4 separate regions of the Homo sapiens genome follow, and all the other regions are reported to be linked to region 2. The links are microRNA targets in miRTarBase. Many come from high-throughput screens and were not tested one by one. Region 2 holds a microRNA gene; each other region holds the end of a gene's coding sequence.

Region 1 (4,000 bases), not on the chromosome of region 2:
CGTCAGTCTCCCGAGTAGCTAGGATTACGGTACCCGCCATATGCCAGGCTAATTTTTGTATTTTTTGTAGAGATGGGGTTTCACCATGTTGGCCCGGCTGGTCTCGAATCTCTAACCTCAAATGATCCGCCTGCCTCGGCCTCCAAAAGTGCTGGGATTACAGGCGTGAGCCATCGCGCCGGGCCCAATTTGTGTACTTCTAGTAACATCCTTTCTCCGCTAGATTGTGACCTCCACAAGAGCAGGAGCCTGTTTTGCCCACCATTGTAGTGCACATCATACACCCTTGATCACTCTGGTCCTCTCCACGTCCACTTCTTGGTGAAAATGCTAGGTCACCAAGCAGGCCTCTCATCCTACATTCCAACAACAAGCCATCTGGTTTGCTGACCCTACCCATGAGGCTGTGTGTGAGCCAGGTGGGCTGGGGAACAGAGACCATCCCTGGCCCAGTGAACCCGAGATGACCTGCTCCATGGAAGGGATCTGGTGCCCTGGTAGAAAGACACTTTGAGTACCCAAGACTTCAATCCCTGGGGCTAGTGAATGGGTCATAAATGAGCCACTTCTGCCCCTGTTCTTTTAATAATGTCCATTCCCCTCACATAGGAGCTTGGATGAAGGGCACCTGGATGTCCATCCCAGGTATACTGGGGCCACTAGTAACACAGACAAAGGCAGTGAAGTAGGACAAGGTCAGGGTAGGGGTGAGAGGGCAGGGGCAGGCACAGCCAAGGCTGTGGGGCTTCCCCAGAGGCCCAGATAGGCTTGAGCCTGCAGAGGACCGGCTTCTCTTCTTGGCAGCACTGGGCACATTCATAAATGTTGTCTATGATCTTTCTGCTCTGCAGAGGCAGGGTGCCTTCATGCACTTCTGAATCCTTACTGTCCATGCCATAGTTTCCAGAAGATAGACATGTCCAACGGTATATGTCCAAGAAATGTGAGGTGCAGCTAGCCCCCATGAGTCCTTTGGGTCTGATGGAGGCACCTCCTTGAGAAGTCTTTCTTCCCTGACACATCCTTTAGTTAACTCCATGCTCCTCACCATGGGTCTCCACAGCCTTGTTGCGCTCAGTATTGTAGGCTCAAAAAACATTTTTCTGAATGAATGTAGAACTTGAAGACTGCCTCTCCTCTGAACAGTTGCCACGTCCAGTGCTCTCAGCCTGGAATCCTCTTCCTTCTTCATTCACCTGTTCAGTTTATTTCAAAATTTGAGGGATTACTAGGTGTTACACTCTTACTGGGCCCAGGGATTACCTCCTCCAGAGAGCCTTTCTGACCCTTCCATTAGGGGCTCCTCTTCCCCATGGCTACTGTACCGAGGTGGACCTCTGAGCCCCCAGATCAAGACGGTCCCTTGAGCACAGAAACCAGCTCTGATTCATCTCTCTGTGCTTGGCACCAGCCTCGTTCAGGAAACACCCATAGAAGGCACCATCTTCTTACGGAAGAGACCACCTCTGGGGCAGACAGATCCTGGTTGGGATTCTAGATCTGCACTTGATAGCTTGGCCAAGTTCCTTTCTCTCTATCAATTTCCTGGAGTAAAACAGCCTGCCGAGTCTAAATATGAGGTTCTAAACTACCTGGCTGGTTTGCCAAGATAGTCATTATCCCCTTAACCCCAAGGGAGAGCAAGGAAAGATAGGCCACTTAATATCTGGTGCTTTGTAGTCCAGGGACCTAAGGAAGGTGGGAGGAGAAGAAGTTACAGTGAGATTCATCTTTATCTGCCCCAGGCTTAGGTCCTCCTCTCCCTCCTAGTCCTCAGTCACCTAGAATACAGAGCCTGAAAACAAGAACTAAGTACTGGTGTTTTATTTGGAGAGGTGCAAACCCAAGGCATTGGAAGTGAGAAAATGGAAGAAAGGCGGGAAAGAATGGGAAGTAACGTAAGGTGATGTATTTAATAGGCTGGGGTGGGCACTGCTTCATGACAAGCCTTGCAGAGGTCACAGTAGTTCTGTCCACCGGCTACTTGGGAGGCCTCCCCATTGATGGTACTGTTTTGGAGAGTTGGTGCCATGCAGCAATTTATGAAAGGCAGGGGAAAAGGGGGAATTGATTTGCCTGAGTCTCACCTATCTCCCATTTTCCACTAGTCAAAAAAAAAATTTTTTTTTTGAGATGGAGTCTTGCTGTCACCCAGGCTGGAGTGCAATGGCACAATCTTGGCTCACCGCAACCTCCACCTCCCGGGTTCAAGCCATTCTCCTGCCTCAGCCTCTCGAATAACTGGGACTACAGGCGCACGCCACCATGCCTAGCTAATTTTTGTATTTTTTGTAGAGACAGGGTTTCACCATATTAGCCAGGCTAGTCTCAAGACTCCTGACCTTGTGATCCACCCGCCTCAGCCTCCCAAAGTATTGGGATTACAGGCGTGAGCCACTGCGCCCGGCCTCAAATTTTATCCCATAAATATTAACTCCCAGCCAGACACCATGGCTTATGCTTGTAATCCCAGCATTTTGGGAAGCTGAGGTGGGCAGACTACTTGAAGCCAGGAGTTTGAGATTAGTCTGGCCAACATGGTGAAACCCCGTCTCTACAAAAAATACAAAAATTAGCTGGGTGTGGTGGTGCTTGCCTGTAATCCCAGCTATTCAGGAGGCTGAAGCAGGAGAATCGTTTGAACCCGGGAGGCAGAGGTTGCAGTGAGCTGAGATCACACCACTGTACTCCAGCCATGGTGGCAGAGCAAGACTCTGTCTCAAATAAATAAATTTCCCCACACTTCTAAGTTTGCTAGCAGCAACTTGGGATGCCAGATCCCATGCCCTATGCCAGGGCATTCCATCCAAGTCTGTAAAGTGGTGGGAAGAAACAGAAACTCTGGGTACATGGCCAGTGAGTGCCAGGGAGAATGATGCAGTATATGTGCCACGTCTAATACAGTACAAAACTAGTTTTTTCATTTTCTGGAAGAAACAAAGCATAGTGATCCAAGAACTTTCTCAAGGTCACATGGATATTAAGTGGCAAATTCAGGATTTGAAAATAGTCTGGCTCTGGAAACTGGATTTTATGTAGCAAGCAAAGGAGTCACTAAAGGGTTTTAAGCTGGGGAGCGACAAGAAATAAAGAGCATTTTAATGAAGCTCCCAGTCTCTACTGTGCTCCACATTCGCATCTGACTAAACTCCAGCAGAAGCAGGTGGCCCCAGAGAGGTTAAGGGCATCCGAGACAGGGTTTGAGGAGTCTCTGGCTCCAGAGCTCCGTGTAGGCTTCAACACTGACCCATAATCTTCCTGTCTTCATCTAATCCTACACCCACCAAAGAGAAGAACTGGTCAGAGGCAGGTAGGATCTGTGTAGAAAAGCCAGAATGAGGCCGGCTGCGGTGGCTCACGCCTGTAATCCCAGCACTTTGGGAGGCCAGCGTGGGCGGATCATGAGGTCAGGAGATCGAGACCATCCTGGCTAACACAGTGAAACCCCGTCTCTACTAAAAATACAAAAAATTACCCGGGCCTGGTGGCACGTGCCTGTAGTCCTAGCTACTCGGGAGGCTGAGGCAGGAAAATCACTTGAACCTGGGAGGTGGAAGGTGCAGTGAACCGAATTGCGCCACTGCACTCCAGCCTGGGAGACAGAGTGAGACTCCGTCTCAAAAAAATAAAAAGGAAAAAAGGAAAAAGAAAACCCAGAATGAGGAGAGGAGACTGACCTAAGGACCAGCAGCAGGAGGACTGTCCTGCTCTCCATTGTTGTTGTTGGCCTGTGGGTCTGAGGGTCCCGGCCGATGAGTCTTCTGGTGTTGCTTGAGATGGTCAGACCTCATGAACTCCCGGCTGCACTGATCACATTTATATGGTCGATATCTGGTGTGTACCCGCATATGTCGTCTAAGCTCATCAGAACGGAAGAAAGACCATGAACAACTTTCCCAGTTGCAAGAATATGGCCTCTCACCTGGGAATGACAAGGGAGAGATGGAATTTAGAATACAGTAGGAAGGAAGGGGTCTAACTCTGTGAGGCAGAGCAGTCC
Region 2 (4,150 bases):
CTGCTGTGAAACCCCCTGCTGCATGGACACCTGGATGAGAGAGGGCAGGCAGCAGATAGGCAGGGGGCAGGGCCTCAAACACTCGCAGCCTGTCCACTCTCAAACTGGAAACTGTATCTCAAGTTCAGCAGTTGGCTTTCTGAGTCTCCGGAGTTATCTACCAAAATATTTGAGCTGGCTTTTATCCTATATGAGCTGAAGCTGGCAGGAGGCTACTTGTAAAACTCCTTCCTTAGGAAAGAAATGATACACGCTACGCGAGGAAAAAAGAAAACAGCTGTGAATGAATTCTTCCCTCACTTTCGAAGATGTGGGTATGTGGCTAGAAAGATGGGGCAGGTTAAGTGTTTATAATAATCAACCTCTGACCAAGCCGGGTTATAGTTTAGAAAGCTGGGGGGCTGCCAGCTGAGCAGGGTCTTTTGAGAGGCAGTCTGGTCCACTGGGCAGAGACCTGGACTGGAAATCAGAACATCTGGGCTCTGGGCCTTAAGCTCTGCATTCACCAGAGTGGCCTGGGGCAAGTTTCTTAGCACTGTGAGCCTTTGTTTCTTCCTTCTTAAAATGGAGAAAGTAATTCCTGCTATCTCCCTGCAATCTCAGGGAGCCAAGATCCAGGCACAAGAGCATCCAGGAAGGGGTTTGTTCCTTTCTGTAAGGAGTATACGGCTTAGCTCTGGGTGGTGGCACACCAGAATGAAATGACTCTGGCTACGACTGAGGGGTGAGATCCCAGTATCTAGGGATTGGGCACTCCAGGAACAACTTGCATTCACTGTGCCATATGCTTACAAATCACAGTCCCATCTATTTTATCATTTGAGCCTCATGACAACTCTGTGAGGTGGTTGTCACACCCATTTTAAAGACAAGGAAACTGGCCGGGCACGGTGGCTCACACCTGTAATCCCAGCACTTTGGGAGGCCGAGGTGGGTGGATCACCAGAGGTCAGGAGTTCAAGACCAGCCTGGCCAACATGGTGAAACCCTGTCTCTACTAAAAATACAAAAATTAGCCGGGCGTGGTGGCGCATGCCTGTAGTCCCAGCTACTTGGGAGGCTGAGGCAGGAGAATCGCTTGAACCTGGGAGGCAGAGGTTGCAGTGAGCTGAGTTTGCACCACTGCACTCCGGCCTGGGCAACAAGAGCTAGACTCTATCACAAAAAAAAAAAAAAAAAAAAAAAAATGAGGACACTAAGGCTTAGAATGGTGAAATGGCTTGCTCAAGGTTTCACAGCTGCTCCATGTGACAGGGTGGAGCGGGTGCCTGGAGCTAGGGCATGGTACCCTGTCACCTGCCCCCACAATCTGTGCCACTTCTGTCAACCACTGTGCTGACCATGGCAGGCACACCTCAGCTGGCTGCTTCCTGAGCCCTACCAGGAGGCGTCAGGAAGGTGCTGGTGAGGCAAGGCTGGGGAATGAACCACCACCTATCTCAAACCCTGACTGGGCACATGGCGCCTGGGCTGTATCTACAGAAGACTAAAACTCCAAAGGAATCTCGCCATTAGCGTTAGGGAGATAATCCTGGGACTGGTGGAAGGAGGAGACCTCTCTTCTCTAGGATGTAAACTGCAATAAGCCAGCAGCTCTTTTGAGGAGGACAATGGCAGCAGCAGGATGCAGGTGGGATGCTCTGAAATTAGGGGCACCCGTGAGGCATGCACAGTACTACCAATGTGCCGAGGGAGACCCCCAGGGTCAGACAGAGCCTCTTCTCAGATCTTGATTTGAACTTCCAAACCACCAAGATCTGCTGGTGCCGCCGTCCTCCTCCTCATCAGATCCCCCCATTCACCCCCAGCCCTGCAGGGCCCAGGTTCAAGCCCCGCTTCCCTCAGAAAGTGTTCTCTGACCATCAGGATCCAAGAAGCCTGGCTTCCCTCTGTGTCCCAACGTGATGGCTGCTGGCACCACACAGGAGTTGATATTGTTAGTTACCTTTTTTTTTTTTTCCTGAGACAGCGTCTTGCTCTGTTGCCCAGGCTGAAGTGCAGTGGTGTAACCATGGCTCACTGCAGCCTCAGACTCCAGGGCTCAAGCAATTCTGCTACCCCAGCCTCCTGAGTAGCTGGGACCACAGGCACACGCCATCACACTTAGCTAATTTTTAATGCTTTTGTAGAGACAAGGGTCTTGCTATGTTGACCAGGCAGGTCTCGAACTCTCACACTGAAGTGATCCCCTGACCTCCTAAAGTGCTGGGATTACAGGCATGAGCCACTGTGCACGGCTGATATTGTTAGTTACCTTTGCAAATAATTTTTTTAAAAAGAGTAACTTCAAACTGTTATAGTAATTTAGAGGTGACAAAGAATGTTTACAAACATCATCTCATGGTACCCTCACAACAACCCTGTGAGGTGAGTCTGATTCAGCCATTTCACAGATGGCGAAACTGAGTCTTAGGTCAGTGACATGCCCAAGGGCACACTCCTGGCACAGCTGGTACTGGAACCAGATCCGAGTTCACGTCCGAAGTTCCTTCCACAGTATGCACACCTCGGGGCCACAGCAGCTGAAGGCCCTTCCATAGGCTGTGGCTGGAGAAGGCGTGTTCCTCTGTTTGGGGTGGTGATAAGTAGGCCAAGGTGACGGGTGCGATTTCTGTGTGAGACAATTCCATTAACCATGTCCCTCAATCACAGATAGCACCCCTCACCTTGAGCCCAGTTTCACAGGTTGGCCAGCAAGCGGTCTTGGTTCAGGAACTCCATCTTAGTCTGCAGAGAAGGATGCAATGGCAGGAAGTGCCAGGCTATGAGAGGCACACAATATGACATGGGCGCAAGCTGGGAGCTTGTTCAGTCACCAGACACCTCTGATGTGTCAGTCTCTCTTCAGGGCTCCCGAGACACAGAAACAGACACCTGCCCTCGAGGAGCTCACAGTCTAGACAAACAAACCCAGGGTCCAAACAAATGGGACACCAACAGTGTGCGAGGACTGGGAAGGGGTGCCTGAGGTCTTCTGGGGCACTGGGAAGGCTTCACAACAGCAGGGCAAAGGATGAGCAGAAGGTGACCAGGAGTATGGAGAGAACATGCATGAGGGCAGGGGCGGGGCCCCTTTAGACGCAGCCCAGGGAGGACAGACTGAAGAAGGACAAGAGAAGGTGGATGGGTTACAACCCCATTACAACACTTCAGGGGAGAGAGTGTCAGGGGAGAGACGGTGAGAATATGCAGTGCAGGTGGTGAAAATGGGAGCCAGTGAGTCAGAGGGACCAGGGGCTCAGGCCAATGCACAGCCTTCACTGCTGGACATGGTCCCACAGGACCTCGATGCTGAGCTGGGGCCTGGGCTGAGTCAGGAGACAGGGCTCCAGGCACGGCAGCCTCTGGGTCCTGGTGTGTTCCTGCAGCCAGGGATGGATATACTGAGAGCTTATAAGGCAGACGATGTGTGGGTTTTTGGGGTCCAGAGACAAAGAGGCCACTTTCTGAATTTCCAACCTGACTAGATTCATGCAGTGGGAATAGCAGGACAGGCCAAGTGGCAGCTGACTGTTAGGACAGAGGCAAAAATAAAGCCCCGTGGGAGTGCAGGAGGGAGTGCAAAGTCACAGGGAGCGGGGCGGCTGGGAAAGGCTCCATCTGTGGAGCCACATTCTGACAGGACGAGTGAGATTTTAGAAGTGTGGGGAAAAGTGAGAGGGGAAGAAGGGCCAGGGGCACAGGAGAGCCTGAGTAAGAGTGTGACTGACGGTGCGACTTGGGTAGCTGTTGGCATGGAGGCGTACAAAGGCCCTGCCTGATACAACATCTGGAGCCCTGGGGTGAGAACAGGGGTGGGTCAGCAAAGAGACATATCCGGCTTTCAGAAAGTGGCCGCCAGAGGGCAGCTGGGAGCAGGCAGGAGGCCAGGGGCTTGCCGTCCTGTTCCCCTCAGGCAGGGCCATGCTGGGCCTGCTTTCTCTCAGGTGGCACAAGGTGTCAAATGGCCTCGGCAGCCAGGGAGATGAAGACAGTCCAGTACTTCCTTCTCTTTAGGGGAGAAAGAGGTAATTTCCAATGGAAAGAGGTTTACAAGAAGCAAAATTCAGCCCCACCTCCAAGAGCTATGAGGTTTAACAACCTTCCACTCCCCTCCAAAGAGCACATGGAGCTGGGCCTGACTCTTCCCGGGAAGGTCTGCCTGTAAGTC
Region 3 (4,000 bases), not on the chromosome of region 2:
TGCACCTCATTTTTTCCTGAGCTCCAAGGTTACACAAGTGGCAGGCTGCCCAGGCCAAATTCCACGTCTGTCCCAATCCTCGATCCACTAACACACAAAACCAGGTCAGAAGCGGTTATGCAGCCCTTGGGTACAAACAGCCAGCTTCCTGCACTCACTCACTGGGCTGGCTGTGTTTGCCATACAAACAGGACAAAGTCCAGGCCTCCTGACCCCAGGGAATAAAGCCTGCAGCTTTGCTTTGCTACACTTTAAAGTACAGGCTGCTTTCAAGTTAACCAGGCAGTCCTTCGTCTTCTCCAGCAAGGCTGAATCCACAGTTCTCTGCTAGGGTAAGGGGGGCTCGTTCAGTTCAAAGGTTTGGGGACTCAGCTCCTGGCCCCTTTGCAGGGTTGCCTTAAGTTTTGGGTTTGACAACCCAGGGACTCTTGTGCACTAAGGTTTGGAGACAAACACTAGGAGAGGAGAAAAAGTGTGACCCAAATAGTAGAAAGAATTCTCTGAGACTCAGTTAAGGTTATTTTAGCTCTGGTTAAACATGCATGTGCGTGCTCACACGCTCACACACACACCATTGTATCCTAAGCTGAATGCTGTCTTTTCAAAAATCTGGCCATTGGCTCATGCCTGTCACCTCAACACTTTGGGAGGCCGAGGTGGGAGGATCACTTGAGCCCAGGAGTTTGAAACCAGCCCGAGCAACATAGTGAGACCCTGTCTCTACAAAAATTTAAAAATCATTTTTTAAATATATACTTATGCTTTCTCGCTACAGGTTTTTTAATCCCAGCTGGTACGGCAGGGGAGATGTCACCCAGGGCAGAGGCTGGGAGGCTTTCAGGCCACAGATTTCCACCATTTGCCAAGCTTCCCTGCTCTCCAGGGTCTCTCTGCAAGGAGCCCCTTAGGAGAATGAAGAAGATCCATTTTGTTTTCTATAAGATATCAACGAGGTACTTCTTGGTTTTATTAGATATGAGAATTATCAATTCAAGTCAGAAGTGCCACAACCACTGCCATATTAGAAAGATTAGTACCCGAGAGCCCAGACTGTCACCCGGCTGGAGGCCTCTCGCCGATGGCTCCCAGGGACCACTGACCTAATCAAGGGCCTCCTCCTTCACACGCCACCCTCCACCCCAACCCCTTTATGCCTTCTTAAAGTCCTTCAGGGAGGGGACCCACCATCAAGATTGTCCTTTCTGGCACCTAACTCTTCTGTCTGCTAGAAGACAGCAATGAGACTGTCCCTACAACGATGATGCTTATGGTGGCCACATCTCAAAGAAGCTGAGAGGGATCTCAGCCCCGTATTGTCACTTGGGAGGCAGAACCCAAATCTTAGTAAATGAAGACTTTCTCTCTTGAACCATTCACAGGAATACTGAAGGTAATGAAAAAATAATGTGTAAACCATCCTTTGGAGCAGAGGCTACAAACTCACATGCCCGCCTGGACCAGCACCGGGCAGACGTCTTACATGAGTGAAGTGCAGTGGGGGATGGGAAGGGCGGGGGAGGGGGTAAAGGTGGTGGGGGTGAGCCGCAGCAGACTTGAGATGACAGCATGCCCCATCCTCCACCCAGAAAACTAGGTATTTTTTATACGTAATCTCCCAAGTTTCAAATATTGGCAATACATACAAAAGGTTATGAAGCCTTATAACTTCTGCCTTAGGCAAATTCCAAACTTAAACAAAGCTCCCTCTCCCACTAAATAAGAAAACTTTAATAAGATGATTACAAAGAAATTAATAAAGAAATAGAAAATGATAGCAGCTTCAAAAATACCAGTCTCCCTGTTTTAAAACAAAATCAATAAAATCAGTGAATCACAATTCATTGAACTCATTCTTGGCTACAAGGAAGCAGCTGGATAGATCCACTGGCAGGCAGCCCTGCAGGATTAAAATGAGGCCCACTGCCAAAAAGCCCCAAATGAGATGCCGTCCTCCTCATCCTCACACCATCCTCATCAGGCAGGGAAGGAATAGGATTAGACTCCCTATTATGGAGAATAGGTTGAGGCACAGAGCAGGAAGGGCCCCTTCTTAATATCATAGAGCCCCTCTGTTGGGTCAGACCAGAACTGGGGGCAGAGGCTAAAGGTGAGACCCACTGCTGTCCAGGAGCAAGGGGCTGGGGGTAGGGGCTACCCTGGCAGCCGGGAGTTCTGGAGCCAGTGATCTAGAGCCCCCCAGCAAAACAGGTTTCCCATTGCACCATTTGGCACTATCCTGGAGAGAGCTGAAATAACAAATCAAAGTTAGGCAGCACCTTGCAGGGCACCGAGCAAATAGTAGGCGCAGTTGTGTGTCTGCTGCGTAAACTGTGCATCATGAATGAAGGGAGCTACTTCCCTCAGCTAGTGCCTCCCCTCCAGGGAAATCCAGGAGCTGCCTTTGCCATTCCGAAGACTCTGGATTTCTCCAAGGCAGGCAAAGAAGACAAGGGAGGTAATGGTGAGTTCCCTCCGTGAATAAACACATGGATTTCCCAGCTCTAAGGGAACATCATCGATTCTGTCAGACTCACGGACACAGAGGAAGGGATTCCAGAACCTCACAGAAACAGAGAGCCCGGAGGGGCTGTGTTTGCATTGAGCTTGGGCTAGGACCTGAGAGCTAGAGCAAGTCCTATACCCAGTAGTCCAAGCCCCTAGCTTTCCTTCTGTTTGGTGCCTATAGGAATTCCCTAGCATCCTTATACCCAAAGGACTTGGCACAGAAAGTCGATGTCAACATGAGAAAGAAAGAGGCTCTTTGTTCTCACCGGCATGTGTGGCTATTTCTGTCCTGGCCCTGCAGCACGCAGACCGTCTTGGCCCTGGCCCGACAAGCCCCCAAGGCAACAGTGTAGTCTTTATTTTGGCTTGCTCTGGGAGCCAAGGTCCAGGGAAGCCTGACCCTCTCTGCTCTGGGGGACTCTGACAGGGAGAAGGCATTGGCTCAGCCAGAATGTCTCAAAGGTACTACAATTGGCATTGAATGGACCAATTCTTTGCTGTCAGAGACTGTTCTGCACATTGTGGGATGCCCACTAGATGCCAGGGGTGCCCCCACAGTCACTGTGACCCCCTCAACACACACACATTTCCAATGCTGCCTGGAGGGACAACCTGCCCCTGGTTTAAAGCCACTGGGCTGGTGGCCCCCTCATGCATTTGTGAAACAGAAGCCCCAGAGACTGAGTGACATGTTCAAGGCCATGCCTCAGCTCTGATGACTTCTGGTTCAGAGTTCTTCCCAGCTGCACTCTCAACGATGGGTGCCCATGCATGTGCCCAGAACACTGCAGACACACCATGGGGTGCCACAGCTCTGCAGAGCCTCAAAGCGGACAGCCATCTGTCTCAGTGGCTCAGAGAAACCGAGACAGAGAGACAAAATAACCTCCCTGTGATCAGACTTAGCAAATGCTGGGTGGGGAGTAGGTTCCCAGGGGAGACACTGTTTTAGGTCCTGCTTGTCTTAGTAAGCCCCACTGTCTAGCTGGTAACTGTGAGTGTGGCAGGCCTCCAGCAGGCGGGGGTTTCTGCAGTCTCCATGGAGACCTGGGGGCCAGTAAGACGGAGCCAGGCCCCAGTCTGTAGGTTAGAGCCAGGGACAGCGCAAGGGTCCAGCCTTCATCTTGAGTCTCCGGTGGGCTCAGCAGGAGTGTGTACGACTCCATCACAGGCTTTTGACCCCCTTCCAAGGTCATCACAGTCTCCATTGGGAAATATGGCTGTTAGTGGCAGCTCCTCCTCAGGTTCCTGGAAGTCTTCTGGAACACAGGAGAAGAAATCACTGAATCAGAAGAGAAAGGTTGTGAGTGAGTTATCTAGGAAGGAAAAGGAGAAAGTTGTCCCCAGCAAATACCTACTTAAAAAACAAAACAAAATACATATCAAAAACCTTAACGATGTACACACCCTTTGACCCACAAATTTCACTTCTAGGATTTTATCCTAAGAAAATAATTAGGAATAATTAGTGGAACTGCTGGAGCTATCTTGCTAC
Region 4 (4,000 bases), not on the chromosome of region 2:
TTATTGAAGCCCCAAACACCTTACCCCTACACAGTGTTATGTGGTTCACGAATAGGTCATTTTCACAGTTGAAAGTTGGAGTGTATATGTGTGTGTGTTAGGAGTTTACTAGCAATTGCTTAATTACAGCATAGAACAGGCCTCTTAGGCTGGGAGTGGTGGTTCATTCCTGTAATCTCAGCACTTTGGGAGGCCAAGGCAGGTGGATTGCTTGAGTCCAGGAGTTTTAGACCAGCCTGGACAACACAGTGAAACCTTGTCTCTACAGAAAATTAGCCAGGTGTGGTGGTGCACACTTGTAATCACAGCTACTGGGAAAGCTGAAGTGGGAGGGTCACCTGAGCCAGGACATTGAGGCTGCAGTGAGCTGTGATTGTACCACTGCACTCCAGCTTGGGCCACAGAGTGAGACCCTGTCTCAAAAAAAAGCTGCTTAGTTGAATGGGAAGAGCTACTTGCATATAGGTGGCAGCAAGTTGTTGATGGAAGTTGGATCTCTGCAGAAGCAGCAGAGGCAGAGAAGCTGCTGTCATGTCAACACTAACAGTCATTCTTGTTTTCTTTTGCCAGGCGGCCTTCTGATCTGTTTACCACGTGAGCAAGCAGCTCGGTTCTGTGCAGAGATAAAGTCCCCCAAATATGGTGAAGGCCACCAAGCATGGATTATTGGGATTGTAGAGAAGGGCAACCGCACAGCCAGAATCATAGACAAACCCCGGATCATCGAGGTCGCACCACAAGTGGCCACTCAAAATGTGAATCCCACACCCGGGGCCACCTCTTAATCTAGACAGAAATAGCTGTTTGGTTTTGTTTTTAAATAGATCTATTTCCCTTATCACTTCAATTAAAGACTATAAACAACAAAAATCTCATTGTGTCTACACATCGGGGTGACCTTAGGTCGGTTTGTAAGTGGATACAATTAATAAAATAAAATCCATTGCCTTTTTTTCCTGTTACATTAACTGAAGATGCACCTAATCTTGAGGCAGCTTCTGAGTTGAGAATTATATTGTTATCCAATACTGTTGATTCATTTTGAATCTTTAGACACTTATCTCTTGCCGCATAGGCTTTTTAAAGGTGCTTTCACATAGCACAGGCATTACCCGTAGTCGTGTCAAATAGCAGTTGGTGTCTTCATTTTATGTATATTTATCATATAAGTCTGATTTTTTTTTTTAAGCGTCTTGAATGGTTTTCTGGAGAGACAGCATTGGTAAGTGGCACATGACGGTATCCCAGTCATAAGAGGGTTGCATGATTCCTTTGAGTGTTTGATTTGAAAAGCCTAGTCTTGTCTCTCAAGAGCATCTCGGACCCAGAACATTCTCCAGTAGTGCATTCAGTTCAACACAGCAAGTGCTTCATTGCATGGAAAACACTTTGAAGACAAAAAAGAAATCTTATTTCTTTTTTTGTAGCCTTCCTGATATTTACAGTAATACCATTAACTGTTTTATCGATAGCAAAAAAGGATACTTTTTGCAATGTTATTAGATGTTCTATAGTGCTACAAGGAATTGCCTTCCGAATGGAGGTTCATGTATAATACTCATTTACAATTCAATATATAATTACACAAATAATTTTTAAATATAATCAATAGTAAAGACTGTTCTGTGGATGGTAGTGTTTAATACATTTTCTATTTTGTACAGTGATTTCAGGCCTTTTGTTTTCTTAAAATCAGCAGCTGTTTGGCCTAATTCTTAGCATTATTTTGTCCTTTGCGCCAGTACTTTTTTGTGCACGCTTTTTGTGATCTGTGTTAAAAACCTGCATTGCCAACATTGCAGCTCGAACTTAAACTTGTTATTCAAATAAATATTTAATTTTTTAAATTGCTCTTGTATAATCAGATGCCCCTTTTAGTATTATTTTAGAAGCGTTGGGAGGGTTTTGCCTAAAGTACAATTTATCGGGAAAAACTAGATTTTAGTTTTATAAAACTTTTAAGTCTTTCATGGGACCTATATTTTCTTGAATTAAATTTTGTAGTTCTAGAATAAATAGGCAATCTAAAAAGGTGTTCTCTGTGTTATGTAAAGTGGAGGCTTCCTTATATTTTAACCTACTAAGCAATGAGGAGGGATTCCTGTCATTAAGCACAAGGGCGCTGGATCCTCAAGTGCCCATCTTCGTGAGAGAAAAAGCAGCACATCCTGCCCATTTCTGGTGCTTTCTGCTCACAGGCACCAAAGCTGCACATGTAAACTGACTTCTTGCCAAAGGAAATGACCCCTGGGAAGTTCAAGCTCCTGGAAGAGGCTTTAACTCGGACGCGCCCTCCTCCAGGAACCAGTGGGCAGGGCAGCCTTCATGCATGTGTAACTGGACCTCCAGCCATAAGCATGGTGTGCAGTATGGAAGAGCCTGCTACGGAACTGAAAGTGATTGGACATTTTATAGGAATTGATAGAGATGTTGGTCCTCAAAAGCTACAAACCAGTGGTCTGCAAAATAAAGTGTGTTGGAAACCTCTAGTGAGATAAACCTACTGTTGAGCTTTTTTTTTTTTTTTTTTTTAAATAACGATGACTGAACTTCAGTGTAGCCTGTGCCGTGAGAGCTGGTGTTTTCCTCAGTGGCAGGCCTATTGAGAGGAGGGAGCTAAGTGGAGTATGTACTTAAGGAAATAATATTTGTGAAGATTGATATTTATAAAGAGAAAATGTTGGGTACTTAGAGGTCCGTGTAAGTCTTATGATCCCAAGAGGAAGAATTTGTATTTAAAGCAGTGTTGGCTGGGCATGGTGGCTCACACCTGTAATATCAGCACTGTGGGAGGCCGAGGTGGGCAGATGACCAGAGGTCCAGAGTTCAAGACCAGACTTGCCAACATGGTGAAATCCTGTCTTTACTAAAAATACAAAAATTAGCTGGGTTTGGTGGCGCACACCTGTATTCCCAGCTACTGGGTAGGCTGAGGCACAAGAATCGCTTGAAGCCGGGAGATAGAAGTTGCAGTGAGCAACCTGCCATCACACCACTGCACTCCAGCTTGGGCGACAGAGACTCAGTCTCAAGAAACAGACTCAAGTCTCAACAAGCAAACAAAAACCAGTATTGTATAGTGGCCCAGATTCACCTGTGTTAGAATCACCCGGGGTGTTAGAAGGCAACATTCCTGCCCCTGATTTTCCAGATTCACAGAATCAGAATTTCTGGGGTGTGGGACTTTGGGAATATCTTAAATAAGGACCCTATGGGGCTATGGCCAAAAAAGTTTCAGAACCATGGGTGCAGCACACCAACATGGCACATGTATACATATGTAACAAACCTGCACGTTGTGCACATGTACCCTAAAACTTAAAGTATAATTTAAAAAAAAAACTGATCTCAAAAGGAATGTTGCAGAGGAAGGCAGGGAAAGTAAGAGGACCTGGTTTTGCAACTTTTTTTTTTTTTTTTTTTTTGAGGCGGAGTCTCTCTATCAGCCAGGCTGGAGTGCAGTGGTGCGATCTCAGCTCACTGCAACCTCTGTCTCCCAGGTTCCAGTGATTCTCCCGCCTCAGCCTCCCGAGTAGCTGGGATTACAGGCGCATGCCACCAAGCCTGACTGATTTTTGTATTTTTAGTAGAGACAGGGTTTTGCCATGTTGGTCTCGAACTGAGCTCAAACGATCCGCCTGCCTTGGCCTCCCAAAGTGCTGGGATCACAGGTGTGAGCCACCATGCCCAGCCTTTTGCAACATATTTTGCAGGAATTTTTTCCTCGACCATTCTCTTACCGACCATTCCGACCAAATCTTGACCATTCTGTTTACTTCCCACATCTGAGCTACGGCCCAGCAAGGCAGCAGAAAGACCTGTATTTTGAAAGCTCCACGAAGACTCAAATGATTGTCACTGAATATTGGAGTTCTTGGCAAAATCTATGTAGAACATTTTAAAAGTCAGTGGACAGGCCAGACATGGTGGCTCACGTCTATAATCCTAGCACTTTGGGAAGCTGAGACAGGAGGATCACTTGAGCACAGGAGTTCGAGAC

The links. The annotated mature microRNA hsa-miR-342-3p reads UCUCACACAGAAAUCGCACCCGU and lies in region 2 at 2,599-2,621, opposite strand. An mRNA with a match to its seed (bases 2 to 7 or 8) in the 3' UTR can be bound and repressed. Matches are read on the target gene's strand: a 7mer-m8 pairs with bases 2 to 8, a 7mer-A1 pairs with bases 2 to 7 and ends in A, and an 8mer does both.
Region 1: the mRNA of KLF17 is a reported target of hsa-miR-342-3p. The part of its 3' UTR that is shown has no 7-base or 8-base seed match.
Region 3: miRTarBase lists C2orf72 as a target of hsa-miR-342-3p. Seed matches in the 3' UTR shown: 7mer-m8 at 1,960-1,966.
Region 4: miRTarBase lists SEPHS1 as a target of hsa-miR-342-3p. The part of its 3' UTR that is shown has no 7-base or 8-base seed match.

Annotation. Positions count from the first base shown.
Region 1 is chr1:44,130,434-44,134,433 of GRCh38, reverse strand. KLF17 (KLF transcription factor 17) reads right to left here. Exons shown (of 4, transcript NM_173484.4): 3 at 3,678-3,922; 4 at 1-1,196. The coding sequence ends at 3,678. Among named protein-coding and RNA genes, the nearest start is that of KLF18, 9.2 kb to the left of the region's middle.
Region 2 is chr14:100,108,186-100,112,335 of GRCh38, reverse strand. MIR342 (microRNA 342) reads right to left here and starts at 2,681; the gene lies at 2,583-2,681. The region is part of intron 3 of EVL (Enah/Vasp-like); the gene reads right to left. MIR151B (microRNA 151b) reads left to right here and starts at 2,822; the gene lies at 2,822-2,917.
Region 3 is chr2:231,046,646-231,050,645 of GRCh38, reverse strand. C2orf72 (chromosome 2 open reading frame 72) reads right to left here. Exons shown (of 3, transcript NM_001144994.2): 3 at 927-3,764. The coding sequence ends at 3,625. It overlaps LOC112268432 (a long non-coding RNA gene), which reads left to right. Exons shown (of 2, transcript XR_002959456.2): 2 at 1-1,770. Among named protein-coding and RNA genes, the nearest start is that of PSMD1, 8.2 kb to the left of the region's middle.
Region 4 is chr10:13,315,927-13,319,926 of GRCh38, reverse strand. It overlaps SEPHS1 (selenophosphate synthetase 1), which reads left to right. Exons shown (of 9, transcript NM_012247.5): 9 at 571-2,499. The coding sequence ends at 785. Among named protein-coding and RNA genes, the nearest start is that of PHYH, 18 kb to the right of the region's middle.